Regions from separate parts of the Homo sapiens genome. Here region 2 is linked to region 1. Evidence: fine-mapped expression QTL. A gene starts in region 1. The other region holds a variant in brackets. All regions are shown on one strand. Distances are from middle to middle. Region 1 holds the start of TFAP2E (transcription factor AP-2 epsilon). Region 2 holds the start of ZMYM4 (zinc finger MYM-type containing 4).

The links. PIP is the estimated chance that this variant, and not a neighbour inherited with it, causes the effect.
Region 2: its variant is the best candidate, but not a certain one, in a credible set for the expression of TFAP2E in stomach (GTEx, PIP 0.53).

The regions. Positions count from the first base shown.
Region 1 is chr1:35,566,282-35,581,490 of GRCh38, reverse strand. TFAP2E (transcription factor AP-2 epsilon) reads right to left here and starts at 8,177. Exons shown (of 7, transcript NM_178548.4): 1 at 7,887-8,177; 2 at 7,082-7,564; 3 at 6,491-6,542. The coding sequence starts at 7,913. It overlaps TFAP2E-AS1 (TFAP2E antisense RNA 1), which reads left to right and starts at 3,629. Exons shown (of 3, transcript NR_183387.1): 1 at 3,629-4,825; 2 at 6,793-7,131; 3 at 11,572-11,680. It overlaps NCDN (neurochondrin), which reads right to left. Exons shown (of 7, transcript NM_014284.3): 7 at 14,712-15,209. RefSeq lists enhancers at 3,551-3,720, 3,731-3,800, 4,176-5,028, 6,726-7,472, 7,714-8,213 and 2 more and a silencer at 11,173-11,274.
Region 2 is chr1:35,267,319-35,282,527 of GRCh38, reverse strand. ZMYM4 (zinc finger MYM-type containing 4) reads right to left here and starts at 13,819. Exons shown (of 30, transcript NM_005095.3): 1 at 13,443-13,819. The coding sequence starts at 13,481. RefSeq lists enhancers at 9,220-9,720, 13,990-14,049, 14,070-14,129 and silencers at 13,300-13,429, 13,500-13,859. The variant A/T (reference allele first, on the strand shown) is at 8,332.

The sequences.
Region 1 (15,209 bases):
TTAGAAAATAGCTTGACAGTTTCTTAAAAATTAAACCTAAACCGACCATATAATCCAGCAATTGCACTCCTAGGAGTTTACTCAAAAGCGCTAAAAATATATTTCTATAGTAAGGCATGTATGTGAATGTTCATAGCAACATTATTTAAGACAGCTAAAAAGTGGAAACAACCCAAGTGCCCGTCAACTGACCAATGGATAAACAAAATATGTTACACCCGTACAATGGCATACTATGAAGCAATAAAAAGAAACAAACTGCTGATAATAGTTTGTTTCTTTTTATTGCTGTTTCTTTTACTTAGCATAATGTTTGGGGCGAGCCTCAAAAATATTATGCTAAGCAAAAGACGCTTGATGCAAAAGTCTGCATATTTATATATTCTATTTATAGAACATGTCCAGAATATGCAAATTTATGGACAGAAAGCAGATCAGTGGTGGCCTAAGGCTTGGGGTGAGAATGGAGAGTAGCTACAAATGGGAACTTCTGGGGATGGCAGAAATGCCTCAAAATGGATTTTTTTGTGGTAATGGTTACACAACTCTACATTTACTAAAAATCATCAAATTATATTCTTACAATGTGTAAATTTTAGGTATGTAAATTTTACCTCAAAAAATCGTTAAAAAATGCAAGTTCCAGGGCCATACTTCCAGGGGTTCTCATGCAGTCAATGTGGGGTGGTGCCCAAGAAATTTGCTTTTTTTTTTTTGAGGCAGAGTCTCGCTCTGTCGCCCAGGCTGGGGTGCAGTGGCGCAATCTCAGCTCACTGCAAGCTCCGCCTCCCGGGTTCACGCCATTCTCCTGCCTCAGCCTCCCGAGTAGCTGGGACTACAGGCGCCCGCCACCACGCCCAGCTAATGTTTTTTTTGGTTTGTTTTTGTTTTTTTAGTAGAGATGGGGTTTCACCGTGTTTGCCAGGATGGTCTCGATCTCCTGACCTCGTGATCCACCCGCCTCGGCCTCCCAAAGTGCTGGGATTACAGGTGTGAGCCACTGCACCTGGCCAAAATTTGCATTTTTAACAAGCACCCCCTGGGGGTCCTGATGCATGTGGTTCCTTGGACTACACTTAGGGTACCACTGGTCCAAAGCTTGAAGGGGTTGGAGCAAGAGGAAGGTAGACGGGAGGAGTAGTGACCTGCTCCCTGGCCCACACTGGGGCACAGCATGTGCAAATGCCCTCCCTAGAGTCTCCTCATCTCCCCTGCTGGGACCTGCCGATTAAGTTTCCTTCTCATCAACTGCCAGAGGGTTTCTTTCTTTCTTTTTTTTTAAGATGGAGTTTTGCTCTTGTTGCCCAGGCTGGAGTGCAATGGCACAATCTTGGCTCACTGCAACCTCCGCCTCCCGGGTTCAAGCGATTTTCCTGTCTCAGCCTCCGGAGTAGCTGGGACTACAGGCGTGCACCACCATGCCTGGCTAATTTTTTTTGTATTTTTAGTAGAGATGACATTTCACCATGTTGGTCAGGCTGGTCTCAATCTCCTGACCTCAGGTAATCCACCTGCCTCGGCCTCCCAAAGTGCTGGGATTACAGGCATAAGCCACTGCGCCCGGCCCAGGGTTTCTTTTACATATAATTTCTATCCTTCACTCCCCTGCTCCAAGGTTTTCCATAGCTCCCACCATTTTCAGGTAAAGTCCAAACTCCATCTGCACATTTTTTAAGTTGCTTTCTGGGGCAGAGAGTAGCCTGGGAGGCAGGTGAGAAAGGGTTGTGGAAGTGCAAGTTCAGTAAATTTTTGATATTTTGTTTATCGTGGATTTTTGCACTATTTTCATTTAAAAAGGCCAAGCGTGGTGGCTCACGCCTGTAATCCCAGCACTTTGGGTGGCTGAAGCGGGCAGGTCACTTGAGGTCAGGAGTTCAAGACCAGCCTGGCCAACATGGTGAAACCACGCCCCTACTAAAAATACAAAAATTAGCTGGGCGTGGTGACAGGTACCTGTAATCCCAGCTACTTGGGAGGCTGAGGTACGAGAATCTGAGAGGCAGAGGTTGCAGTGAGCTGAGATCGTGGTGCTGCACCCCAACCTGGGCGAGAGAGTAAAACTGTGTCTCGAAAAAAAAGATTTTTTTTTTTTTTGAGACAGAGTTTTGCTGTTGTTGTCCAGGCTGGAGTGCAATGGTGTGATCTTGGTTCACTGCAACCTCCGCCCCGCAGGTTCAAGGGATTCTCCTGCCTCAGCCTCCGGAGTAGCTGGGATTACAGGTGCCTGCCACCCCACCCAGCTAATTTTTGTATTTTTAGTAGAAACGGGGTTTCACCATATTGGCCAGGCTGGTCTCGAACTCCAGACCTCAGGTGATCCACCCGCCTCGGCCTCCCAAAGTGCTGGGATCACATGGTGTGAGCCACCGCCGCCCGGCCTCTTTTTTTTTTTTTTTTTTTTTTTTTTTTTTGAGATAGTCTCCCTCTGTTGTCCAGGCTGGAGTACAGTGGCATGATCTCGGCTCACTGCAACCTCTGCCTCCTGGGTCAAGCAATTCTCTTGCCTCAGCCTCCTGAGTGGCTGGGATTACAGGCTAGCGCCACCACACTGGGCTAATTTTTGTATTTTTAGTAGAGATGGGGTTTCACCATCTTGGCCAGGCTGGTCTCGAACTCTTGACCTCAAGTGATCCGGCCTCCCAAAGTGCTGGGATTACAGACGTGAGCCACTGCGCCCGGCCTATTTATCTTGATTACTGAGTTTTTTGGCACCCTCTCAAATTCTGTCCCAGAAGTCAGTATCTCACTCATCTCACCCATGTCCTGGCTGCTTAGAGATTGTCTGGGAAGTGGAGACCCTCCCCAGCTCCCTCCTCCTTCTCCAGGGCCAAAGACAGCAAGGAATAGGGCGACTGTTTACATCAGCTCCTGTCCTAGAGATCCCCTGAGATTGGACAGCTGAGCCCGTGGAGAGGGATTCCCCACCCCCAAGTAGGCAACCACCCACTCTCCTCCAGAGGGAACGAGGGATCCATCTCAGTTCTCATCCTTGACCACTCCCCTCCAGCTCTGATTGTATAACCTGAAACCCACACACGGTTTGTAACTTTTTTTTTTTTTTTCCGAGACGGAGTCTCGCTCTGTTTCCAGGCTGGAGTGCAGTGGCGCGATCTTGGCTCACTGCAATCTCCGCCTCCCGGGTTCAAGCGATTCCCCTGGCTCAGCCTCCCTAGTAGCTGGGACTACAGACGCGCACCACCATGCCCGGCTAATTTGTTTGTAACCTTTTTAACCTGTCTGGCTTTTCCACAGGGAGAGGATTTGCATATGCTGTGTCCTGTGTGATGAAAGGAGCCCTTTTTACACACCCCCTCTTTCAATGCACTCAGACTTCAAAGCCCATCACTCATTCATTCAACAAACACCCACTAAGCACCTCTTGAACCCGGTTCAACTATCTCCCCTCTAGGCACTCACCCAACCTCGGGCACTCTCCGCGCCTCCTCTGAGCTCCTCCCGCGTCCCATACAGCCCCTGCTCACTGCTGGAAAATATTCCTGTTAAGCTCCGTCTCCCCACCAGTCCTGCTTGCTTTCTGTGTGTCTGGGATAGGTTGCAAAACTGGAGGTGACAAATGTGGGCAGGAAATGGAGGGCTCCCTTATACTCCTAGGGTCGGCCTCAGCCCTGCCATTTCCTGCCCAATACCGCGGATGCAACTGGCATGGGACCCGGAAGTGTGTGGTAAAGCGCCGGGGCTTCGCCTGGCCGCCCCTCCCGGACGCTTGCCTGCAGTCAGCGAAGCTTTTCCAACCCAGGTCTGGGCCCTGCGAGCTCCAGGTGCCTCTGCCCCGCGGCGCTGGCGAAGTCGAAGCCCGAGAACGCCCACCGCAGCGATGCGAAGGCCGCTTCTGGGGTGGGGCTGAGGCTGCAGCTGCCTCCCTTTCGCACCAAGGACCCCAACCTTCAGCGACGCAGCCGCCGCTCCCGCCCAGGCTGGGAGGCACTGTAGGGATCCGACGCTTCAGGTGGCCAAAGAGCGACTTTCTCTGATTCCAGGGCCCTGGCGGGGCAGGCTCCAGTACCGCACTCGGCGGAGGCCGAAGGTCTGTGGGGCAGGACAGGAGTTCCTCGTGCCGTCGGAAGGGCCGAGGACGAAGGAGGGCGCTAATTCACTCCCCACTGGGCTGGCGGCAACGCCGAATCCCGCAGTGACCGCGGAGGGCCAAGGTGAAAACTGCTGGGGGCGCCGAGGGCAGGTGTGGGGAGGGGCGGCTCCAGGGAGCAAGGAGCCCACCTGCCTCGCCGCCGCAGCTGCCCTGGGTCGACCGCCCACGCTTTCCCCTGGGTCACGACCTCCGGATCCAACTGTGCCCGGCTCCTGCCCCTTCCCCTTTGCTGCTGCTGCGCGGGCTGTAACTTGACGTCTAGGCTGGGGCGTCCAGGGCGCAGTCTCCGCTCAGGTCGCCAGCGCTCCACTCGCTCCACTGGGCCACAGACCCGCTGGCGCTGGGGTCCCGCTGGCGCTGGGGTCCCGCTGGCGCTGGGGTCCCGCTGGCGCTGGGGTCCCGCTGGCGCTGGGGTCCCGCTGGCGCTGGGGTCCCGCTGGCGCTGGGGTCCCGCGGTTGTGCACGTGAGTCCGCGTGGCCCCGTCCCGCGCGGTTGTGCACGTGAGTCCGCGCGGCCGCGTCCCGCCCCGCTCCAGGGAGCCAGCGCGCCGCCACCTGGGATGTTAGGACTCTCGTTGTGTTCTTTGGACTGCTTTGGGGGATTTCGGCGTACCCCTAGGATCTAGGAGTTTTGGAAGTTGTTTGAGAGAAACCAGCTCTGGGAGGGCCTCGCATCCAGTCTCCTGTCTCGGCTTCGGACCGGGGTTCCGGGTTAAGGTGCTCAGAGGAACAGCTGATCCTTCTACCCTTGCGCAGGGCAGAGATCCCCAAACCTCTTTCTAAAATGCAGGGTCTTAGTCTTTCTCAGGGAGTCAGTGAACCTAGACTCCCAGTCTCTTGAGCCCAAGCATGAATAGGGAACTGGGGACCACCACCATGCTCATATTTCTGGTGGCCAGGAAGTCCAGGCAGGCTTTTGCCCACTGCAGACGGATCTCTTTCTTCAGGGGTCAAGAAAGGCTCTGTACAGTAAGCCAACCAAGCCCCACCAGCAGAGCTGCGCTGCAACCAGGTTCCTAGTGTCTTTCCCACACTCCCAGTTCCAAGCGACACAGGACACAGCCCCAATTCCACCTCCCCCCACCCACTTCCTGCCCTGTTGCCTCATCTTCCCTGCTACACACTCCAAGTCATCCACCCAACCCCCAGCTCCTGGTAACTCAGCCCCAGCTCCTGGAAGTCCAGCCCCAGCCCTGCTACCACCACTTCCACCTTGGCCTCCCCTGAGAACAAGTGGAGGGCAAATAGAGCCCAGGCTTGAATTCACTCGTTTGAAAAACAACTCAAGCCAAACCCTGTGGGAGCAGTGCCTGCCTGGGGCACCTCAGGCTCATGTGCACCTCTGAATTCTTTCGGGCACCTGCCCCAAATGTAAAGAGGCTGCTACCCAATGCCTGGGCCCCTCTGACTCTCTGCTCCTCTCTGGCTGTCTCTCTGTTTTTGTCGTCTCTCACCTTCCCCTGTCATGGCCAGTACTTGGTCCTCAGGCCAGAAAAGGTGGATCCCGTGTCCCTGGATTTTACTAATGCCAGGAGTCACATAAATACTCCTATATATACACAGAGAGGGCCCGCGCATGCTTGGAAATCCTCAGATACCAAAGAACAAAGTGCAGGACACAACAGAGATACTGTACATATTGAGAAATGTGTACATCCCCCAAATGCAGAGAAATGCACACCAACATACAGAGACACACCTCACAAACACATTCACAGAAACAGACACACTCACACTCCAAGAAATACTAAGACACCCATGAAGGGAACATTTCAGACATGCACAGGACCCTGAACTCACATGGACACAGACACCCAGGAGCAGGTGGGCCCTGACTCAGGTGCACACAGCCTAACACACAGTACTCACACACAAGCTCCCCTAAGTCTAAATGCCGCAAGAGACTCCCACAGAAAGAAAATTCCCCCAGAGGCCTCCAAGGCCCTGCCTGGAAGGAAGAGGAAGAAAGTGCCCGCCAGGCACCGAAATGCTAAGGCACTGTAAAGTGAAAATCATTTCCCCAACTCCGTGGGAACAGCACTTCCATTCCCATCTCTTAGGGAAACAGGGAAGTGGTTTAACTCGTTCTGCAAATCAACTCCAGATCCACAAGAGTGCCCTCCCCCTCGGCGGGGAGAGGCCAGGCTCCCAGTGCTGCAGCCCAGTGAATGCTGATCCGCTGAGGCCCACCCCAGGCCACAGGGTGCTGGGCAAACTCACCAAGCCCGCACGTCTGCCTAACATCTGGCTGGGCCAGGAAGAGTGCCTGGTGGACACCCAGCCTGGCGACACACAGGAGGCACGGCCGGTGAAGAAAATGGATCTGTGCACCAAGGGCCTGCACCATCTCGCCGGGCTCTGCCCTGACAGACCATTCCTTACCTTTCTTGATCACGGACTGGTCTAGGAGGCTCATTCCCGGCTCGTCCATTGCCTGCAAATAGCAGAGGGCAGCGGTGAGGGCGCATAAAGCCCTAGCCGCCCATGTCTTCCCAAGCCCCTGCCACCCAGGGTCTCTGTCTGCTCCGCCCAAGGCGCACCAGCTTCGCTTGGGGCGGCGACGGGCAGGCCCAGGAATCGCTATGTCCAGGCACTGAGCTGGAGCCCTGGGCATCTCACTGTGCAGTGCAAAAAGGGAATTTTGAATCTTACACTGGTAACTATTATGCTTCTCTTCGCCCCAGGTGCAGGCTGCCCCATGGATGCCACACGTGGCAGCGGGGAGAAAAGAAGTGATTCGGTCCCTGCCGAGGGTTGCTGCCACCCACGCACTGCTGGCGGACTCAGTGCCAGGCAGCCTTGATGGCCAGGCAACGTCTAACCCAGGAGGTGGGACACATCCTCGGAGTCACCAGTGAGATGTGGCGAGCTGGGAGAAAAGTCGGCTTCCTGCATTTGTCACCTTCTGCCTCCAGCCATGGTAGTAAACCACCGCGGCCAGTCCCGACCCATCCCGGATCCCTCGGGTCTCACCTGCAGGTCCTCCAGACCGGGGGCCGCCGCCAGCCCCGGAAGGCCGAGAGGTGCGTCTGCCAGGCCGTGCGCGCCGTCGGCCAGGCCGTGCAGGAGCCGGGGCACGGCAGTGGCATAGTCACGGCGCGGGTCAAGGCCCAGGGCGCGGGCGGGCGGTGCCAGCAGGCCGGGAGGCTCCTCGTGGGCGCGGGCGGCTGCGCGGGGCGCGGCCCAGGCGGCCTGAGGAGGCTGCGGCTGCGCCAGGGGCGCCAGGCCGCCATATGGGTCCCCTGCCAGGTGGGGAAAGGCTGCGGCGGCGTCGGGCGCCTGACCGTAGGGCAGCGGTGGCTGCGGGTAGGGCGGCGGGAAGTAGGGCGGCTGGAATTCGGCGGCAGCTGTGGCGGCCGGCGTGTGGCAGAGCGGGGGCGCCGGCCCGTAGGCCGCCTGGGGCAGAGACGACAGGCGGGCCCCGCCGGCAGCTGCTCCCAGCCCGTCGGGGCGCTCCTGGGGAAGGAGAGGGGTGCCTTAGGTGACCCACTGGCAGCTGAAAGGACCCCAGCCTGAAAGGATCCTCCTCAGCTCGGGAGGGTTCAGCTGCAGTCCCTCCCGTTTCTTGGGGCCCGAGGTTTATTTCCGAGCCACCCGCGGGCGCAGGAGCCTCAGGCTGGGGACAGCGGTCACTTGCGCATCGCGTTCTCAGCTGGCGAAGTCCCTGCGGCCCCCTCCCTCCGAGATTTCGTTAGCGCGGGACAGGAGGGTTGGAAAGTCCAGCACTCAGGCGCCCCGATCCCCCGGCCGAATATGTCCCGGGCCCGAGACTACTCACCATGGCGGAGTAGGTGTGCACCAGCATGGGGCGGTGAGTGCCGGGCGCGAGGCGTGGCGGCGGCGGAGCCCTAGCCCGACGGCGAGCGCTGCGGGCAGAGGCGCCGGGAGCCGGCACAGCCCGCGGAGGTCACGGTGCGGTAGCTGGGTGCGACCCAGCCGGGATCCTAGTGGGCGTGGGGTCCTCAGCGGTGGCCGTTCCCGGGCGGGTCCATGGAGGCAGGACGGACGGGCACTGATCGCACTTGGAAAAGTCGGTCAACGGGTGCCCAGCGCCCGCCCTTCCTCCTCTGAGCGTAGCCTGCTCCATGCACTCCAGTTATAGTGGCGGGGGCGCGCCGGGCCTCCGGGGGCGCGCATTAAAGAGACAAGCTATGGCAGTTCTCTCCCTTTTCCCCAGCGGCTGCCACAGGGGAGGCAGTGGCTTTGGCGGGATCGGGTAGGGTGGGTAGGGGGCGTGAATTCAGCCCACATTGATCAGAGCCGCCTTCTGGGCTCGCAGCTCGCAGCTGCAGTGAAACAGAAATATTCGAGGCTGGGACGCAAGGGCCCTACATTTGCCTGGCTCTATCACATCCTTGCCTTTAAGCAAAGCACTATTCTTCGCTGGCCTCAGCTTCCTCGGTAAAATAGGTATCAATCCTTTCTCTAAGCACCTCAAGAGACTTTGGATGAGGTGGGTAATCGGGAACGTGGAAGAAGTTTGTGAGCTGAAGACTCCAGCCTATCTGCTCATGCGCACACAGTGTCAGTGCGTGTGTTTAGGGGGTCTACCATCACAGTCTTTCCTGAATGGTTCTGGATCAAAATCCCTCGAAGGTGCCCACTTCGCTCTCAGGCTTCCTGGGCTGAAAACTTCCAAGCCAAGCCAGGCTCTGAGGGAGTTGGAGACAGAAGCTGGCCAGACAGAGAGAGAGACTTGCCTGGGATGGGTTTGGGTATGAGCTCCACCTGACAAGGGGCCAAGATATTTCTGAAGCCACAGGGTCCTGGGCTGATTGAGTGTGGGCATGAGATACCCAGAGACTGTTGAGTGACTGTGTGTAACTGACTAGCATGGATGCCGTGTGATTGTTACACTAACATGCGCAGGCTACATGTTCCTGTGTTACCATGGCAGGCACTCCCTGGCTGTCAAGCAAGTTCCAGTCTCTGTAGTCACTCTCTCTTTCTCCCCAAACCCAACCCTCCCCTCCTGACAAGCAGAGACAGGGATTAAAGATGGACAAATGAGAGGAATGCTAAGGAGAACAGGAATTAAGAAAGCAGAAGAAAGATGTTTTTTAAAAGCAAGATGTGCAGACCAGGGCAAAGTAGAAATAATCACAGCAGACTTATTACAGAATGTGCCAGCCTCTGTGCAAAGTGCTTCACGAATATTGGGTTCTTTAACCCTCACAGCAGCTCTATGAAAGAGATACCCATATCATCCCCATTTTCAGGGGAGGGGTGAGGCATGGAGAGGTTAAATGGCTTGCCCAAGGTCAAGCAGCTAAGTGGCAGAGCTGGGGTGATCTGCCCCTGGCCCCTCTCTGCTCAGAATCACTATTCTCTACTGCCTCAGACTCAGGGGCTTGGATTTAGTCCTGACTCTGCCTAACTGTGTGATCCTAGCTACATCCCGTTTCCTCTGTGATCTCAGTTTCTGCAACTTCGACAACACCAATAAAAAAGTAGGGGAAGGCAGAGAAGACTAGTTGTTTTTTTAGGTCCCTTTTTAGTGAAGTAGTAAATGAGAAGATTAAGGTAAAATTATTGATATAGAAGAGGAGGTGATAGTGACACCATTAACTCATGGAATATATGGTTCCAAGTGGGTATCCCAGAAGGCACATGGCAGGTGCAGAGCTCAGGGCTGGATGATCTCAGCCTGGGGAGTGGTGGGGAAAGAAGGAGGCTAGAAGCCAAGGATTCATCATTAAGAACTTTCTGAAGTCTGGAACCGCCAGCGAGGTTCCAGAGGATGAAGCGGAATTGGGAAGCTTTGCAACTTTCCTGCTCGAGATGGGTCAGAGATCAGGATTGTGTTTGTGTGTATCTATATATGAGGGAGTCTGTGGCAATGCCCTGTTCCTCCCTCCCTCAACCCCAGCCACAGGGCATCAGAAGTCAAGCTCCAGGACAGGTGTCAGTGCGTGAATAGAAATTGATGAACTCCTCTGGGAGAAGTCTAGGAGCCGCAAAGGAGATGATGCCTGTGCCCAGCTGCGGGGATGCCCCTGCTCTCTCCAGCAGCTTGGGAAGGCCAGAGTGGCGGGATGTGCTGCCTGTCTGTGGCTTCCTTGGGTTTTCTCAATCTACTTCCTACACCTTTGATAGCCCCTTTTTGCCTCATTGTCCTACTCCGACCATTTCTGTCTTCTTTTCTGTTTCTCTTTTCACCTACATGCTTAATGTCGGTAATTCTTTCTCAGAGCAGAGAAGCTTCTTTTTCTTCCTGCACTCTTCATGAGTGAGCTCATCCCCTCTCAAGTCTTTTTTTTTTTTTTTTTTATAACAGAGTCTCACTCTGTTGCTTGGGCTGGAGTGCAGTGGCACAATCTCGGCTCACTGCAACCTCCACCTCCCGGGTTCAAGCGATTCTCATGTCTCAGTTTCCTGAGTAACTGGGATTACAGGGGCCCACCACCACGCCCGGCTAACTTTTGTATTTTTACTAGAGACAGGGTTTCATCATGTCAGCCAGGCTGATCTCGAACTCCTGACTTCAAGTGAACACTCGCCTCAGCCTCCCAAAGTGCTGGGATTACAGGCATGAGTCACCACGCCCGGCCCAAGTCTTTAATGACTACCTGTCTACTGTTATCTCCCAACTGTGTTATCTCTGGCCTGAATCACTAGTGAGAGATCCAGACCCATAGACACAGCTGCCAGCTGCGTATTTTCTCCAGACATCTCATTGCAGCTGTCTGAAATTTTCCAAGTCCAACACTGAACTCAACATCTCCTCTATCCCCAGCACCAACCCCAACCTGCTTCTCCTTTGCTCTGTAGTTTCATAAATGACACCACCCTTTTTCAAGTTCAAAACTTGCTAGTCATCCCAGAAGAGCGTAGGTCCTTTCCTTAACCCCCACAAGCTAATCCTTATGGAGTGTTGCCATTTCTAACCCTTAAACATCCACCCACAGAAGGTATGTGGTGGAGAATTGAGGCAGGTATCCCAGAGGGCACATGGCACCCTGTCTCAGCACCTTAAACTACCTTACTCTTACTCATAGATCAGTGGCTCTCAAAGTGTGGTCCCTTGAGCCCAGGAGTTTGAGACCAGCCTGGGCAACACAGCCAAAGAGTGGTTCCTGGACCAGCATCACCAACAATATCTGGGAGCTTGCTAGAAGTCCCAATTCTTGGATCCCACTCATGACCTTCTGAGTCAATAACTCTGGGGGTGGAGCCCAGCAACCTGTGTTATTAATAAGTCCTTAAGGTGACTCAGAGGCACATTAAAGTTTAAGAACCACTATCTAGGCCATTGCAACAATTCTCTAACTGGTCTCCTGACTTTATTCATATCTCTTCTGATCAATTTCCAACTTCCACAAGAGTGACTGGACCATGTTACCTCCCTACTGAAAACTTTCCTAGGGCTCCCCATGACCCATCTTCGGGGGAAAAAAAGTTTAAACATTCTAATGAGCATTCCAGACTCTGCAGTTGTGACTAACTTACTTTTCCTCTTTCAGGAACTGCTTCACAAGATTAAAGGAGAAACAGAAAATGTATCTAGCGCTGTGCTTGGGGCATGGCAGGAACTCAATGAATGCTTATTAAATACTGTAAATGATAAACACATCAATGGATGGTGTTATGAATCCACTGGCCTATTAAGGGATCCTTTAGGAAGGCTCTATGTGAACATGATCCTGGGTATCTACACATAGAACCCAGGTATAATCTGAAGAGATCATCTGATAAGTGAGTGATTTTGATTATGGCTACTGGGGAGAGGGATGTTCTCCATGGTCTGCTGCTGCTTTGAGTCTCCCTAAAACATCAGAGTCCCATGATTTCAGACTCAGGACTACTTCTTTCAGTGCCAAGGGACTCCTCACTCTCTGAGGCATGGAGGTGGAGATTTCTGGTTGTCTGCTCCCTGGGACACATGCACACATGTGGAGGCCTGGGGTGCAGTGGGGTACACATGCAGACAGCCTTGGGAACATGGGGCACACAACTTGCACAGAGACATTCATGGGAAACACAAGTACACATAGGAACATGGGACATATATTGACATAGAGTTGCATGCTCAAACATACGTGGACTCCCATTTGGCACACTTGGCATACTGCTTTTCTCCAAGGCTCCTTCTCTTTTCAAAAAGTGAGCTTGCATTTGGATTTTATGTTAAGAAAAAACTCTGATCTGCCTCATTTATTGTTGACACAGCCACCCTCATCCTCCCAGCCTTTGATCACCTCCTGCTCCAGGCCAGGCTGAGTGTTTGCAGGGTGGGGAAATCTGGCACAAGGAGATGCCAAGGCGCCATCTCGTGGTTAGATCTCACAACTGCAGCTCAGATCTCCCTTTTCCCCACTCCGCTGAAATACCAAGAGCAAGCCAGAACTCTCTGACCATACCTCATTTAAGCACAGAACTCTGTCTGCCTTGTATTAGGAAGCTTTGCAGGGTTTGACTTCTCCACTATGGGAGGGAGAGCACCCTGACAGCAGGGACCATGGGTGGCTGTCACTTTATTTGGGACCTTTCTCTTCTCTTTTCACTTCCCCAGATGATCTCAGTCCCTCCCATGACTTTAGGGACCCTCTATACTGACAGCTCCCAAATCTGTCACTTGCCCAGACTTTTCTTGAGCTCCAGACCATAGAAAGCAACTACCCCTTGGATATACCATGAGCAGCACAAATTCGCCATTTACCAAGTTGAGTTGTGTATGGTATGCACAAATCTGTCTCTGTCCCAGTGTTCCCAGTGACAGTGAATGCCCCATTATCCACTCAGTCTCCCAGATCAGGAATCTGGGAGTCATCCTTGGTTCTACTCCCCTTCTCTTTACCCCTCTTCACTTCCAGTTAATCACCAAGTCCTATTAACTCCTACCTGTATCTTCTCCAGCCTCATTGCCACTGGCTTAGTTCAGACTTAGCATCTCCTCTCTGAGCTCCCTGGCTCAGCCATTCCTCTTGCAGTGCCTCATCTTCCCAAAATGCAAACGGGATCACATTCAATCTGCTAAAAAATCTGCAGTCTAGCCGGGGATGGTGGCTCATGCCTACAATCCCAGCACTTTGGGAGGCTGAGGCAAAAGGATTACTTGAGGCCATGAGTTTCGAGATCAGGCTGGGCAACAGAGTGAGACCCTGCTTCTAAAAAAAACAAAACTGCAATTTGATCTCTCAGCATGATTCCACGTTTAAGCTTCTGAGCACAGCACAGTAGGATCTGGTCCATGCCTGCTGGTTCAACCTCATCTTCCACCACTCCACACTTCACACTCTATACACCATGGAATGCGAAACTACTCGTAGTTCTCAAGCTTGCATGCCTTCAGACCTTGCTGTTCCTTTTCGTGTCTGCCTGGCAAGCCCCTCCTCACCCTGAAGTCTCAGAGCACATAGTTGCTGTAAGTTTTCCTGCAATCGTTTGGCCAGTCTGAGGGGCTCGCATGCTCCAGCCACACTGTGTTTGGACCTACATAGAAGCCACTGCTTACAGTTTTTTTGTTTTTGTTTTTGTTTTTTTGAGACAGGATCTCACCCTGTCTTCCAGGCTGGAATGCAGTGGTGTGATCATAGCTCACTATAACCTCAAACCCCTGGGCTCAAGAGAACCTCTCGCCTCAGTCTCGGGAGTAGCAGGGACTACAGGCACGAGGCACCATGCCCGGCTAATTGTTTTTCTTTTGTAGAGATGGAGTCTCACTGTGTTGCCCAGGCTGATCTTGAATTCCTGGGCTCAAGTGATCCTCCCACCTCAGACTCCCAAAGTATTGGGATTACAGGCGTTAGCCACCACACCTAGCCTCTATGTCTTTTCATATTTACCCCAGAGAATCCATGCTAAGAAGATGGCTTTCAGTACAACCAGTCAATAAATAAATATTCCTGTCTATGCATAGCCAACCACAGGTGGGCACATAGGCTATGCTCAGCACGTGCTTATAGGTTTGAGGGCCTAGGTGGAGGAGGTTGCGGAGGGTATGGGTCTGGGGCCTGTCTGGCTCCAACCTCACAGCTTTGGCTCAGGACTGGTGAAGTACCCATAGTGGGTACTTGGCTCATCTGCTGAAGCTTGCAGGCCCTCTGGCTTCTCATTTGGCATACAGGATCAACAGCTGGTAACCTGAAAGCTACATTTGGACTGCATGTTTTGTTGGATCAGTAGTTATTTAATTAAAGATAGTTACTGACATTCAAAAGTTGGGTTTCACATACAAATTAGGATTCCTGACTTCTTTAAAAATGGGAGGATATGGCAGGGCCACTTGGCAGCAACCCAGTGACATGGGGGCGGGGGTGCAGTGTTTCATCTGTACTTGAGAGCACCAGAGCCCCCACAAGGCCTGGCCACATCAACATGAGTTTGGCAATCTGCTGTACAAGTGAAAGATGTGGGCTGGGGAGTCGGATGGCCTGTGTGGAGTCCTGGCTCTGGCACTGACTAGCGGCAACACCTTGAGCCAATCACTTATCCATGCCAAAGTTGCTTTGTCTGTAAAATCAGAACCCTTCAGAGGATTCTTGGAAGGGCTGAATGAGGTCTCATGATGTGTTTAGCAGGGCATGTGTTCAGCACCTGGTAGCTGTGAACTGATGGAGCCTGGAAGGGAGAGAGCAGGTGCAGGGCAGACCACGCAGGAGGCTTCTCGTCACCAATGAACATTTATTGAGTGTCCACATGTGCACAGCTTTGAACTTGGCGATCACAGAACGCACTGGGGGAGGGAAGCAAGGGATCAAGAGTGTGTGTGTGTGTGTGTGTGTGTGTGTGTGTGTGTGTGTGTGTGTGTGTGGTCCCCCTGGGTTTATAAGAAAGGTAGTCCCTGCTGGAGCCGCCAGTCGCGTCTCTGCAGAGAGGAGTCATAGCAGGGGTGGGAGTTAAAGCCAGGCACCACGGTGGCAGTGGAGTGTAATCACTGGGGAAACATGCGGATTCTGGGGAAGTGTCCCTCCTGTTCCTGGCTCCAGCCAGGCCAGATGGCACCAGGGGGACAGGAATCAGATGCTCAGGTGTCCAAGCAGGGATAAGGACAGGCAAAATAAATAACCCCCCAACCCCCATCGTCACTCTGCTGCAACACGACACAAAGGTTTAAAGATCTGGGCCCAAAGACTCTGGGTCCCTTCAAGCAAGCTCAGGT
Region 2 (15,209 bases), 300 kb after region 1:
AACCCAGCAAATCCATTTCTAGGTACATACCTGTACTAGTCTGTTTAGTCTTGCTGTAACAGAATACCTGAGGTTGAGTAACTTATAAAGAAAAGAGGTTTATGTAGCTCACAATTCTGGTGGCTGGGAAGTCCAAAAGCATGGCACTGGTGTCTGCTTAGCTTTTGGTGAGGGCTATGTGCTGCACCACAGCATGGAAAAGCAAAAAGGCAAGGGGGCAAAGAGACTTACAAAAGGTAGAACCTTGCTTGTAACAACTCATTAGGGCAGTGTCCCCACTATCCAAACACCTCCCACTAGGGCCCACCTCCTAATACTGCCATATTGGGAATCAAATTTCAACATGAATTTTAAAAGACACTCATTAAAACCATCACAATACCAGAAGGAAGTGAAAGCAAGGACTCAAACAAATACTTACATACCAATGTTTATAGCAACATTACTTACAATAGCCAAAAGGTGTCTATTGATGGATGAATGGATAAACAAAATGTATATGCACACAATGGAATATTTTGCAGCCATAAAAAGGAATGAGAAGTTCTGATACATACTATAACTGGATGAACCTTGAAAATATGCTAAGTGAAATGTCAGACACCAAAGGATAAATATTGTATGAGTCCACTTACATGAAATATCTAGAATAGGCAACTTCATAGACACAGAAAGTAATTTAAAGTTTACCAGAGGCTGGCGCAAGGGACCATGCAGGGTTACTGCATAACATGTAGAGTTTCTATTGTGGGTGAAATGAATAATGGTAATGATTGCACAATATTGTTTATGTACTTAATGCCACTGAATTATACACTTAAAGTTGTTAAAATGGTAAATGTTATATTATATATATATATATATATTTATTATATGATTTGCTTTTTGAGAAGTTATAATTGCACAAAATTAAGGGGGTACACAGTGGTGTTTTGATACACACGTATGTATACGGTGTGGAATGACTGAATCAAGCAAATTAGCATATCCATCACCTTAAATACTTATTCACACCACCTAACTACAACTTTCTACTCTTGGACCAATATCTTCCTGTCCCTCCCTTCCATCCCCCATGCTCTGGTAACTATAATTCTACTCTCTGCTTCTATGAGTTCTATTGTTTTAGATTCCACATTAAGTGACAAGATGCAGTTTTTGTCTTCCTGTGCCTGGCTTACTGCACTTTGTTATGTACATTTTAACACATTTTTTTAAACTTAAGGTAATTTTTTTTTTTTTTTGAGATGGAGTCTCGCTCTGTCACCCAGGCTGGAGTGCAGTGGCACAATCTTGGCTCACTGCAACCTCCGCCTCCTGGGTTCAAGTGATTCTCCTGCCTCAGCCTCCCGAGTAGCTGGGATTACAGGCACGTGCCACCACGCCTGGCTAATTTTTTGTATTTTTAGTAGAGACAGGGTTTCACTGTGTTAGCCAGGATGGTCTCGATCTCCTGACCTCGTGTTCCGCCCGCAGTGGCCTCTCAATGTGCTGGGATTACGTGCGTGAGCCATCGCACCCGACCTGTGATTTTTTAAATATAAAAAAATCAATTTTTAAAAAGGATCGAGGTGCCGACCTTGAAGACCATGTTGTGGGTTAAATTGTGGTCCCCAAGAGATATGTCCACCCAGATCCTCAGAATATGACTTCATTTGGAATAAAGTTCTTTGCTGGTGTAGTTAATGTAAGGGTCTTGAAATGAGATCATCCTGAATTAGAGTAGGCCCTAAATCCAATGAAGAGTGTCCTTAGAAGAGACAGAAATGAAGACAAGAGAGACAAAGAGATAATGCCATGTAAAGACAGAGGCAAAAACTGGAGTAATCTACCACAAATCAAGGAACACGTGGGACCACCAGAGGCTCAAAGAGAGGAGGAAGAATTCTTCCCTAAAGGCTTCAGAGAAAGCATGGCCTTGCCAACATCCTGATTTCAAACTTTTAGCCTCCAGAACTGTGAGATGATAAATTTCTTTAATTTTAAACCACCAAGTTTGTGGTAATTTCTTATGGCAAACCCAGGAAACTAATTCAGATTTTAGTACATGGAAGTGGAGTGCTGCTTTAATATCTAAAAATGTGAAGGTGGGCCAGGCATGATGGCTTATGCCTGTAGTCCCAACACTTTGGGAGGCCAAGGTGTGAGGACTGCTTGAGCTCATGAGTTCGAGATCAGCCTGTGCAACATGGTAAAACACCATCTCTATTAAAAAACTTTTAAACAAAGAAAGAAGAGAGAGAGAGGGAGAGAGAGAGAGAGAGAGAAAGAGAGAAAGAAAGAGAGAAAGAAAGAGAAAGGGAAAGGAAGAGAAAGGAAGGGAAGAAAGGAAGGGAAGGGAAGGGAAGGGGGGAAGGGAGGAAGGGAGGAAGGAAGAAAGAAAGAGAGAGAGAGAGACAAAGAAAGAAAAGAAAGTAACAAAAAGAAAGAGAAAGAGAGAAAAAAAAATGTAAAGGTGGCTTTGAAATTGGGTAATGGGCTGAAAGAGTTTTGAGATGCATGATTTTAGAAAAGTACAGACTGCCTTAAAGACATGGTGGTAGAAATACTGATGTCAAAGGCAATTCTGGTTAGGGTTTAGAAGGATGTGATGAGCAACTAAGAGAAAGCTTCTGTAGTCTTAGAGAATACATACACAGAATTGTGAACATTTTGGTTCATATCAATATTTTGGTTAAGGATGCTTCTGTTGCTGTCTCAGAAGTAAATAAAGAATATGTGACTGGGAACTGGAAGAAAGGTGAGCTATGTTATAAAGTGGCTGAACTATGTTCTACTGTGGGATAGAAAGGAGAATCTGGAAGCCATGAACTTGAATATTTAGCCTAGGAGATTTCCAAGCAAAGTGCTGAAGGTACAGCTTGGTTCCTCCTTGATATTTATAGTAAAATACAAGAAGAAAGAGATAAATTGAAGAAGGAACTTTAAGCAAAAGGAAACAACGATTAACTGGGAGGTTCTCAGATTATTCAGAATACAAAGGATGCGGAAATTAGGAAATTCACTGTTAGAAAAGTGTGTTCTAGAGAGCAGGCCACGTGGCTGGACAACCATATGCTGAAGATACTAGCAGTGTGACTCATGGATCCCATCAATCATCTCAACAGAAACGAGGAATGGAGATGGGGTTATCAGTAAGGAACTGTGAAGAATCCTCTCGTCTAATGATATGGACCCCCTTGATATGTAAGGAGACTGACAAGGTTTTAAAGAATATCATACCAACAAAAATGCTGTCAGCCTGTACTGAAAGGAACAGAGATGGGACAAAATTTTTTAAAGTGTCTTACTTCTGGGATTTTATAGGCAAGAAATGGGCTAATACAGTTACTCAACTACAAACATGTGCAACCCTTCAGGGAAAAGTAAAAATGACTGAAGGCGAGCAGCATAGTGGGGGTTGGGGGTAGGGGAGAAACAGGCCCACACCAGCTGCAGACAGAGCCTCCATGGGCCCAGAGGGCAGAGGATCAAGCCACAGAGGATTATTCTCAGGCCCTGAAACCTAGAGAAATTTGTCCTGCTGAGTTTTGAACTTGCTTGAAACCGGAGATCCTTTATTCTTTCCATTTTCTTCCTTTTGAATGGGAATGTCTATCTTAACAGCTGTCTCATCCTCTCATCATTGTATTTTGGAAGCAGATAAGTTGTTTTCCAGTTTCACAGGTCCACAGATGGAGAATTTTATCCCAAATGAATCATGCCGAGTCCATACTCTTACCTAATTTAGATGATTTAAGACAATGAGATTTCAAACTTTTTGAGGTTATAATATTTGGAGATTTTGGACTTAAGAGTTCATGCTGTAGCTGGGCATGGTGGCTCATGCCTGTAATCCCAGCACTTTGGGAGGCCGAGGCGGGCAGATCACGAGGTCAGGAGATGGAGCCCATCCTAACATAGTGAAACCCCGTCTCCACTAAAAATACAAAAAATTAGCCAGGCATGGCGGCACGCTCCTGTAGTCCCAGCTACTTGGGAGACTGAGGCAGGAAAATGGCTTGAACCCAGGAGGCAGAGGTTGCAGTGAGCCAAGATTCTGCCACTACACTCCAGCCTGGGCGAGAGAGTGAAATTCCATCTAAAAAAAAAAAAAAAAAACAGAGTTCATGCTGTAATAGGTCGAGACTTTTGAGGATGTTGGGATGAGGTGAATTTATTTTGCATATGGGATGTAAATGAAGTTTTAGGGGTCAAAAAAAGAACTGTAGTGTATTAAACTGTGGCTCCCAAAAGTTATGTCCACCCAGAACCACAGTATGTGAGCAGACTAGATCTTTGGAGAGGTAATTATGGTAAGGATCTTGAGCTGAGAACATCCAGGAATAAGGTAGACCCTAAGAGACAGAAAAGAAGATGCAGAAAGAAGACCAAGGGAAGATGAAGGCAAAGACAGGAGTTTTGCCGCCACAAGTCAAGGAATACCAACCAAGCCACAAGAAGATAGAAGAGACAAGCAAAGATTCTTCCCTAGAGCCTTGATTTTGGACTTCTAGCCTCCAAAACTGTGAGATAATTTCTGATGTTTTAAGCTACCAAGTATGTAGCAGTTTTTTGGCAGCCTTAGGAAACTAATTTAAGAGACCGCCAATCATCAAAGATACAACAAATTGAACACCAAAAATAATGACTATGATAAATTAGAATGTATCACATATGGTAAAACTCATGAGTTCCTAATGATACTCCCTCCCAAACCTCACCTTTGGGAGTTGTGAGGGCGGGCATCAATTCATTTTTCTGAAAATTACTGATAAAGGGGAAAAAAATAAGCATTTATCCTGCTTTTTCTTTACAAACCGTATTACAAGGTAACCAAATAATTGATGAGGGAATTCTTTATGAAAGAATTCCAGTTAATAAATACAAAAGAAATGACCAAAAAAAATCACTCTTCTAATGAAATAATGGATATAGGCAAGAATTATCATTAAGTGAAAAGTTAAAAATAAATTACATTTGGATCCCACTGACAGAACCTAAACCAAATGATCCATTTAGTATCACTAAAAGTAGAACCACCACTTAAGTTACCTCCTAGAACGATCCAACAAGAATTCACAGCCCCATCTAATGGAATGACTATAAATCCTAATTTGTCTAGAACAATTCCAGTTTAAACTATTCCTTCTGTGTAATCATTATAGCACCCCCTTTCATTCTCAAAATTGTCTGATTGCAAATAAATTATATAACCACTCTTTATAAATATTTCTTGCCAAAGAAACTGAACCTAAACTCATCAAGCTCTACCAACTAGGGCTCTCAATCTTGGCTACAGACTGAAATCACTTGGTAAATTTTTTAAAATATTGATGATGACATTTTACCTCATGGGCTCTGATTAATTTATCGGAGATGTGGCCTAGGGATCAGGATAACTAAAAGCTCTCCAGATAATTCTAAAGTTTTAGCCAAAGTTCAGAACCACTGCTCTGTATTTAACTACTAATTTGTGGGAAATATGAGGGGTAAAGGAACATGTTAAATACCATAACAAGGATTCAATCAGCCAAATCCAAAATGTGGAAAATTATCCTGGAACAATAACCTATTTTTTTCAACAAATAAATAGCATGGGAAAGGAGCACAGGGGGTATGAGTTAAGAAAGGGGATTATTGGCTGGGTGCAGTGGCTCATGCCTATAATCCCAGCACTTTGGGAGGCGGAGGCGGGTGGATCACTTGAAATCAGGAGCTTGAGACCAGCTTGGCCAACATGGCAAAACCCTGTCGCTACTAAAAACACAAAATAAGCCAAGGCTGGTGGTGCATGCCTATAATCCCAGCTACTCGGGAGGCTGAAGCAGGAAAATCGCTTGAACCCAGGAGACGGACGATGCAGTGAGCCAAGATCACGCCACTGCACTCCAGCCTGGGCAACAAGGGCAAAACTCCATTTCAAAAAGAAAAAAAAAGGTGGGGGGAGGTGATTAAGGTTAAGAAAAACTTAAGAAACATATAAACTAAATGAAATGTGTAACTCTTAGTTGGATGATTTAAACAAATCAGTGTAAAAAGACACTTAAAGAATAAGAGAAGTCTGAACACAGACTGGATTAAGGAACTCTTTTGTTAGGTCGTAACAGTATTGTGGTTGTGCTTGTTAAAAATTCTTATCTGTTAGAAATACACACGGAAGTATTTATAGATTAAATGATGTGATGTGTGTTATTTCTTTGAAATTATTTCAACTATGGAAAAAAAGGAAGGAAGGAGGAAGGAAAGGAAAGGAGGGAAGAAAGAAGGGAGGGAGGGAGGGAAGGAGGGAGGGAGGGAGGGACAGAAATGAGTAGTTAGATGAGACAGGAATAGTAGATTAATTTTTGGCTTATAAATGTATAATATGCATGTCAGTATTAAAATACATTTGTAAGACATATTGGGAAGTGTAAAGAAAGAAAAACACATATGATTCTTGATATGTGCTGGGTTCTCAAAGAACTGACAGTGCTGGGTTCTATACGCTGGATAGACCAAAACAAAACAAAAAAAAGGACTATCTTTGGTCAAAGGCAGCTAATTAAAGCTTCTAGGAGGCCAGAAAGATGATATGAATGAAATTAAAATAACAATATAAATATTTCCTAAGTACAAGAAAGTGGGTATAGGTATGAGAAGGTTGGATAAGAACTATTACTACCCCAAAATTGCTAAATTCCAGAGATTATACCATAAACTGACTTTGAAAAACCCATGCTCCTGCTAATGGCTAAGCCACATAAAAGTGTCATTTTTTTTTAAGTCAAATGGTCAAGTATTAGCAATTTTGTTGGGTTGAATACAGTACATTTATACAATACTTGCCTTTCTCCTTTGCTAAAGTAAGTACATACAGTTAGCTCATAGTAAAATAATCAGAATTTTTAAGGGAAATATCACTTTTCTTTAAATAGTGGCTGTTCTCCTAATACAGAATTCAAAAATACCTCTTAAGTATCCATAGAAACTGAAATTTTATATTTATCTACTTACATATTCTTTAGTAAGAAAACCTTTCTGGCAAGGCACAGTGGCTCACGCCTGTAATCCCAGCACTTTGGGAGGCTGAGGCGGGCAGATCATGAGGTCAGGAGTTCAAGACCAGCCTGGCCAACATGGTGAAACCCTGTCTAAAAATTAGCTGGGCATTGTGGTGCACGCCTGTAATCCTAGCTACTCGGGGGACTGAGGCAGGAGAATTGCTTGAACCCAGGAGGTGGAGGTTGTAGTGAGCTGAGATGGCACCACTGTACTCCAGCCTAGGCGACAGAGCAAGACTCTGTCTCAAAAAAAAAGAAAAGAAAAAAGAAAATCTTTCCATTGTCAAAAAAAGTACAAACATAATCTTTAAAGTAAATCACAGCTTCAAAATATTTAGTGTATATTTTCTAAAAAATAAATGTGAGCTGTGAATACATATTTTAAGATGATCTCAAACAAAAATGTATTTCTTAGGGAACAAGTTAACTTAATGATTCCTAAGAAGTAACTTACATCAACTTTGTTTGAATGTAATTCAAATTATTCTAACATCCATACATTCCAGATAAAGAATTATGTGCTTTATTTTACAAATGAGAATATAAACACTAACCATAATATTTCTGGATAAACAAAAGTTCTAACCTATATGATCGAACAGGACCAGTTCAAGTAATAATTGATCCTGATTTAGCCATCATATCTCCAGCAAATCTCTCTGTGCCTTAATTTCCTAATTTATAAAATGGGACAATAATTGTGGTTGAAAAATACATCACATGTAAAATACTTAGAAAAATGACTGGCACTTAAGGGTTTATAATACCAAGTATTATCATTATTTATAGATGTCTCTGCTTATTACAAGATGGGAAGAACCAGCGTGTGAAAACAACTCAGAATCATTCTCAGTATTAGAATGGCCTCTCCTTTTTTTTTTTTTTTTTTAAAAAAAAAAACAGTGTCTCTCTTGCTCTGTCACCCAGGCTAAAGTGCAGTGGCACAATCATAGTTCAATGCAATCTCGAAATCCTAGGCTCAAGCAATCCTCCAAGCAATCCTCCCACCTCAGCCTCATGAGTAGACGAGGCTACTAAACCTCGGGTAATTTTTTTAATTTATTGTAGAGATGGGGTCTTGCTATGTTGTCCAGGATGGTCTCAAACTCCTGGCCTCATGCCATCCTCCTGCCTCGGCCTCCCAAAGTGCTAGGATTACAAGCATGAACCACTGTACCCAGCCACAAGTATTATTATTTACAGATCCCTCTGTGTGTTACAAGATGGGAAGCAGTGTGAAAACAATGCAGAATCACTGTATTTGAATGGCCTCTTCAAATGGTCTCTAAACAAAGAGTCAATACTTTCT[A/T]AAAGCAAATTATTCACATTGCATACATATAAACCGCAAATATTGTAATGATATGTACCGCCATGTTTTTAAGTAATACATTTAGCAAAAAGACAGAAAAGAGAAAAAGTTAATTAAGGAATTAAGAGGGATCAATCTTTTGCAATTATTTTATTATAAAATATTAAAATAACAGAAATTCAAAATAAAACTTCTCCATATCCCATCACATCATGAAGTCAATGCTTTCATTTGTTCGTATTTTCTACTGTCTATATGTGTGTTCAATTTTCACAGATTTATATATTAATAGATAACATTTTATAGTCTACATTTTCACTTAGCATTATACCATGAATACTTTTTCCACTTTGTGAAATTTGCACCCTTATACTCTCTTTCGTTTCTCCTCCCTACCCACTGAAGGTAATCAGTGGTAATATCCCAAACTGTGTCCTCCACAATTTTCTCTAAGTTCATACATGTACAAGCATATACAGACACAAATGTGGGGAGGCAAGAAAGGTCGTTTTGTTTTGTTTTTCACAAAAAATGGAAGCATACTACTTATACATATGCTTTCTCTCTTTTTTAAGCATACCAGGTATATACATCTCAAATTTAATACACACAGAATTTTAAGTATGAAAATGAATACAATTTACTAGACCGGGTAATATTTACATTTACAAAAGTTATTATTTTGTATGTAAACTTTGAAAAGACAAGGATTTTACAACAAAATATGGCCGCCCGATTTAGTTAGACCTCATACTTCATAACATACTGGTTATTATAATAGCCATGCATAAATAATTCAATCATTTATAATAAGCCTACCTAATGAGTCTTAAAAGCTATTTGAGAAAACAAAAATTTTATCATCTAAAAAAATTAAATAATATGCCAACTTTAAAGTGTGTGTGTGTGTATGTATTTGTGTGGGTGTGATGCTTGCTGTAACGCCTTCATGTATAGGCACTAGGATATGAACTTAATTCTCTCTATACTAGAGATGATAGATGAATATAGCGCTGATCCACCCACATACTCAGCTCCCCCGTGTTCACAAATTGAGAGACTAGCATTCCAGCATATTCTGAATACAAGTGTTCCGACTGCCCACAAATATAAAAACAAGACATCAGGCAGGCCTACCTAGAATTTAAGGTTGTTAACCCAATGGTCTTAAAATGCAGTCACCGGCTGGGCGTGGTGGCTCACGCCTGTAATCCTAGCACTTTGGGAGGCCGAGGCGGGTGGATCACGAGGTCAGGAGATCGAGACCATCCTGGCTAACATGGTGAAACCCCGTCTCTACTAAAAATACAGAAACAAAAAATTAGCCGGGCATGGTGGTGGGAGCCTGTAGTCCCAGCTACTCGGGAGGCTGAGGCGAAGGAATGGCGTGAACCCGGGAGGCGGAGCTTGCAGTGAGCTGAGATAGCGCCACTGCACTCCAGCATGGGCGACAGAGCAAGACTCCATCTCAAAAACAACAACAAAAAATGCAGTCACCTGCCCATCTAACCATAATCCAGAACAATCAGAAGATCCCTAAATCTGGATCCATAGGAGAGAACTCTGGGGAGTAAAGGACGCTATGAAAGATTTACAGAGCCCCTCAAAATTACAAAGCAGAGAACTTGGTACTCAACCCATAGAGCCTCTGCTGTACTAGGTAAGCTATTCTTACAAAAATAAGTCAGCAAGTCTTTTGAGTTCCTACTGTGTAGAGGTCACAAGATGTCCAGACGCAAAAAGCAATGAAATAGATACTATGTTAAAGGAGTTCACAATTTATCAAGAGAGCCAGCATATATTATCCTAAATGACCCTAAGTAACAAAGCACAATGCCTAGCATGTAGCTTATGAAATAGCACAGGTGCTTAGCAACTTTTTTGTGACATGATTACAAAGGTCAAAAGCAGTAAGCATCATTAAGTACAATACCATGTCATCAATGCAATTTCAGATTGAATAGCCTAAAGTTACTATCTAAGTCTATGTGGATAGTTTGTTTCAACTCCCTCAAGGCAGTCAATTTCCAAAGACATGGTACTGCATAGTCCCCATTAATCGGCTTGGAGTATACATATGGAATCCACATGTAATTTGGCACACACCAAAAAAAAGTGGAAAAAAGTACTTATATCATTTAAGACAATCATACCGAACATTCTAATGAAATATCAAAAACAAAATGAATTATGGATCAAAAAATATTATTTATGTATTATTTTTACTTTTTCTAGAGAGGGGGTTTCCCTCTGTCACCCAGGCTGGAGAGCAGTGGCAATATCATAGCTCACTGCAACCTCCAACTCCTGGGCTCAAGCAATGCTCCCACCTCAACCTCTGAATAGCGAGGACTAGAAGCATGTGCCACCACACCATTAATTCCAAAAATCAATGAATGTAATTTTCCTCTGTGATGAAACTGGCAAAATAATGGGGGAAACCTATACAAGTCCTGCGTATGTTATAGGTTGTTAAAAATAAAATTAACTTTTGGGCCAGGCCCGGTAGCTCACACCTGTAATCCCAGCACTTTGGGAAGCCGAGGTGTGCTGATCACCAGAGGTCAGGAGTTCGAGATCAGCCTGGCCAACATGGCAAAATCCCATCTTTACTAAAAATACAAAAATTAGCCAGGCATGGTGGTGCTTGCCTGTAATCCCAGCTACTTGGGAGGCTGAAGCAGGAGAATTAATTGAACCCGGGAGGCGGAGGTTGCAACGAGCCGAGATTGCGCCACCGCACTCTAGCCTGGGCAACAGAGCAAGACTCTGTCTCAAAAATAATAATAATAATAAAGTTTTTACTGCTACCAGTATGGTATCTTTTTTTTTTTTTCCAGCATTCCTTTAGCAGAAGATTCACAAGACCAGTAACATCTTTTAAGTGTACGACAAGAGGCAGAATATATTTAAAATCTAGTTGAATTTGTTGTCAACACACATCAATGTTTTCTAGAATATCCTAGAACATCCTAGTACAGAAGGTGAATGACAACATTCACAGCAACTGGATGCAGAAATCTCCCTGAATTAACATTACATATCTTAAGTAATTTACCCTGTATATTTTCATTGGTGGACTATATGCCATATGCCTTCATCCAAGCACAGTAAGGATCTAGTTCAAAACTGAACACAACTTGAAAATTTTAAAATTTCAAAACACATGCATTCCATACACAACATTTATACTTACAAAACTATTTGGACATACCATCATACAGCTTAACTTGCTCTATGACTAATTATTGCATTAGGTGAATCCAACATTTCGTAAACTTATCAATGGTAAAAATTTATTGTTCAAAACACTACGATGAAATGCATTAAAATAACACGACTGATGAACAGAAAGAGGGATAGAGGGGTAAATATATGATAAAACAAGTGGAATGCAATTTTTTTTTTGGAGGGGGTTTTGAGACAGTGCCTCCCTCTGTCACCTAGGCTAGAGTGCAGTAGCACGATCTCGGCTCACTGCTACCACCGCCTCCCTGCTACCACCGCCTCCCAGGTTCAAGCGATTCCCCTGCCTCAGCCTCCCGAATAGCTGGGATTACAGGCACCCGCCACCACGCCGGGTTAATTTTTTGTATTTTTAGTAGAGACGGGGTTTCACCATGTTGGCCAGGCTGGTCTCGAACTCCTGGCCTCAAGTGATCCTGCCGCCTCGGCCTCCCAAAGTGCTGGGATTACAGGCGTGAGCCGCTGTGCATGTCCGGAATGCAATGTTAACAGTAGGATCTAGGCGGTTGGGTGTATGACTGCTCCCCGTAAGTTTTATAATATTGACGGATAGTTCAAAATATTTTCCTAATAAATTGTTGGAAAAAATAATACTTGACACTTCTTTGGTCATTTACAATTTAAGCTTTTAAGGAGAGAAACACAGATTAAAGAAACTCCTCTGTGGCATCCCACACAGGCACTATAGTTGGGACAAACCTGGATTCAAATCCTACCTCAACCTTGCAACTAGCTGTGTGATCTAAGTAAATTACTTAAGCCCTCAACACCTAAATTTCCTCATCTGCAAATAGGTTCTAGGAGGAGTTACTATGAAGTTAAATTCTTCACATAAAGGTCTTAGCTCAGTGCCAGGCACACAGTAAGCACTCAAAACATCAGCTGTAGCATCATTACGAGATTACTAATTTTACGCTAAGCTGAAAGGGCATTCTTCATAAAGTAGTAATTTTTTGCCCTTTTGCTAATTGATCGTTTCTGAAACCATTCCCAAAAGGAAGACTCCTAAAAGGAAACTTACTTCTTATCATGCTAAGCGGGGAGGAAGTAAAAGAAAAGTGAGGGATATTGCTCAATCGATAGTACAGTATTGTTCGCCATCTGAAAAAAACCACTCAGAATTAAATAAGGAAAGTTTCCAGACAAACTTTAAAAGGTATTCAAACAACTCCTATGTAGAATTGGCTTCACCTCTGCAGGTTGATTGGGTACATCCCTGTTATGAGAAAACTTGTCGTATTCTTCCAAGTCCCTAATTGCGAGTAAGAGGCTAGGCTAGAACATGACATTCATAGTAGCCAAAATCTTTCTCCTAAATCAGGACATGCCAACGATCCCACTTCTTCACAGGTAAGACCACCACCCCGACTTTGGTCTAGATAACGGCTATGGGGGGAGGGGAAAGGAGGCAGGAAAATGAATTCGCGATGGTGTTACTGAAGAACCCTCCGGTTATTTCTCCTGAGACCCCTCCACGACTTATTCCCGCCACCACCACCCCCACCTGACCTCTCCCCAGTTAACTTCCAGACTCTGATGTACTAAAGATGCACTAAAGATGCACTTAAGAATCTGACACCTCCCCTCCCTGGGCCTAGATATCCCACCCCAGTGCTGGGGAACGTCGGGGGGAGGAAGGCAAACAACGGCCCCCTCCCCTCCCCCCCACCCAGCACCAAATCTTTGTCCCACCTGCCGAGGGACCGCTCGCCAGCGCGCTCCGGACCCAAGGCTGCCTCAGACCTGCCCGCAACCTTGTCCTAACTGGGCCTCGGCGACCCCTCCACGAACCTGAGTATGGCCCATTCCCGGCCCCGGGCCGCGCCCCGCCCCCCGCCGCCCGAGTTCTGCCTCACCTCACCTACCCTCTTTCGGGGGCCGGACTCCACCTCTCTCTCCGCCATGTTGGGCCCCGCTCGGAACCGCTGCGGCTCCCCGCGCGGTGGCGGCGGTACCTCTCGGCCCCCCGGCCCCCGCCCACACTGCAGGCACGGCCGCCTCGCGGCAGCTTCCCCGGACCCGGCCGGGCCTTGCGCCGAGAGTGGGGAGGGGGCGGATGCCGCGCGCCGGGCCGCAGCTTCTGAGATCCCACGGGTCCGCGCGTGGGCGGGAGGGCCTGCCCGGGGACGGGGTGGGGGCCGGGACTCGGGGGGTTAATGGCCTCCAAGGGGCCCCGTGAGTAGGATTATTTTCTCTCAGAGAAATTCCTCCGCCTGCGGTTTCTTAAAGGGATCACCAAATCAGCCCCTTGCGCGCGCCCCTGATGCGCAGGCGCACCCTAAGTCCCTCCTTCCTTTCCCACCAAGCCCCCGGTCCTGAGCGTGCGCGGTAAGTGGCCATGGGTAGGCCAAATCCTGCAAGTCTCTTTGCTGCCAGCAGCTGCTCCCACCACTCAACTATGGCCGCTCCCTTAAAGGGACCATGACGCAGGGATGAAGGAGAAATGAAAGAAATTACTGGAAAGACAATCTGGAGAATTGGGTGCAATGTCAGTGAAGGGTTCCACATCACCATCTTACACCTGACTACAGTGGTACCATTGAAGAGGGAAAGTCATGGTAAGCTGAAGTTCTCAGTGGACCTCTGAACATGAAGAATCCCAAACCAATGAGGGAACAAGACAGTCATCTCAAGGAAAACCAACTTTCCTCCCTTTCGACTGCCTGTTCTGAAGCACAAGGCATAGAATATCAAGAGCCAACTCCTATAACCTCACCTTAAAATCAAAGCTTTTGGTGATTTTGAAGATTGAACCAACAACTGGAAATAATTTCTTCAATAGTAATTTATCCTTAGAACATCAAAATGGAGAAGGATCTTAGGGAACCATTTACTCCAGTGCTCCCAATGATAAAATTGCAGCCTGATCATGGGAAGGAATTTGTCCCAATGTAACTAATGGCTGGTGTGGAGTTGGAATCAAGATTACAGTCTCAGTCCTCCAGGCTGTCTTCAGGCGAGAGATAAATTTGGTTTAATTTGATATCCCTAGAAGATTAAAAATTGAAGTTTCATGGTATTTGGAGAATATCATAATTCTCTTGTGAAGATGTAATGATTTGCAGATGATGGGTGTCCTCATTCACCTCTATTGAAGGAGCTTGACAATCTGCCTTAAAGGATAAGCATCTTATTTCTAAGCAGGAAACCAGGAAGTAGATTTGGGTCTATCTTGTTCCAAAACTGGGTCCTAAGCTGAAAATCGCTGAAAAGAATGAGGGCTTCATTCATTCCTCTTCTGTTCATTCTAGTTCCCACAAGCTTTGGGTGCAGAAAAAATTAAGTTTATAATGATAGTTCAGGGACAGTGGGGAGACATATAGTAAGAAATACAAAGAAGATGCCTCCTGAAGGTCATTTCCCATGACAAGACATATTCAAGTGGGAATGATAACTCCTGAAGTCACAGGATAATGAGATGTAACTTCTGTTTTCTGTTTTATTTAGCACTTGGTAGCTATTCTGAAACAGATGTTTTCTAATCTGTAATATTTTGCTGAAAACTTTTGGTGAAATTGCTGGAAGTTTCCATACTGGCCTTGCTTATGCCTTTAGCACTGTCTTTAATTTCACTCCTCGGTAGGAGAGAAGAAAGAAGGACAAAGAAATATGTTCATTTCAGCCAGAATTTT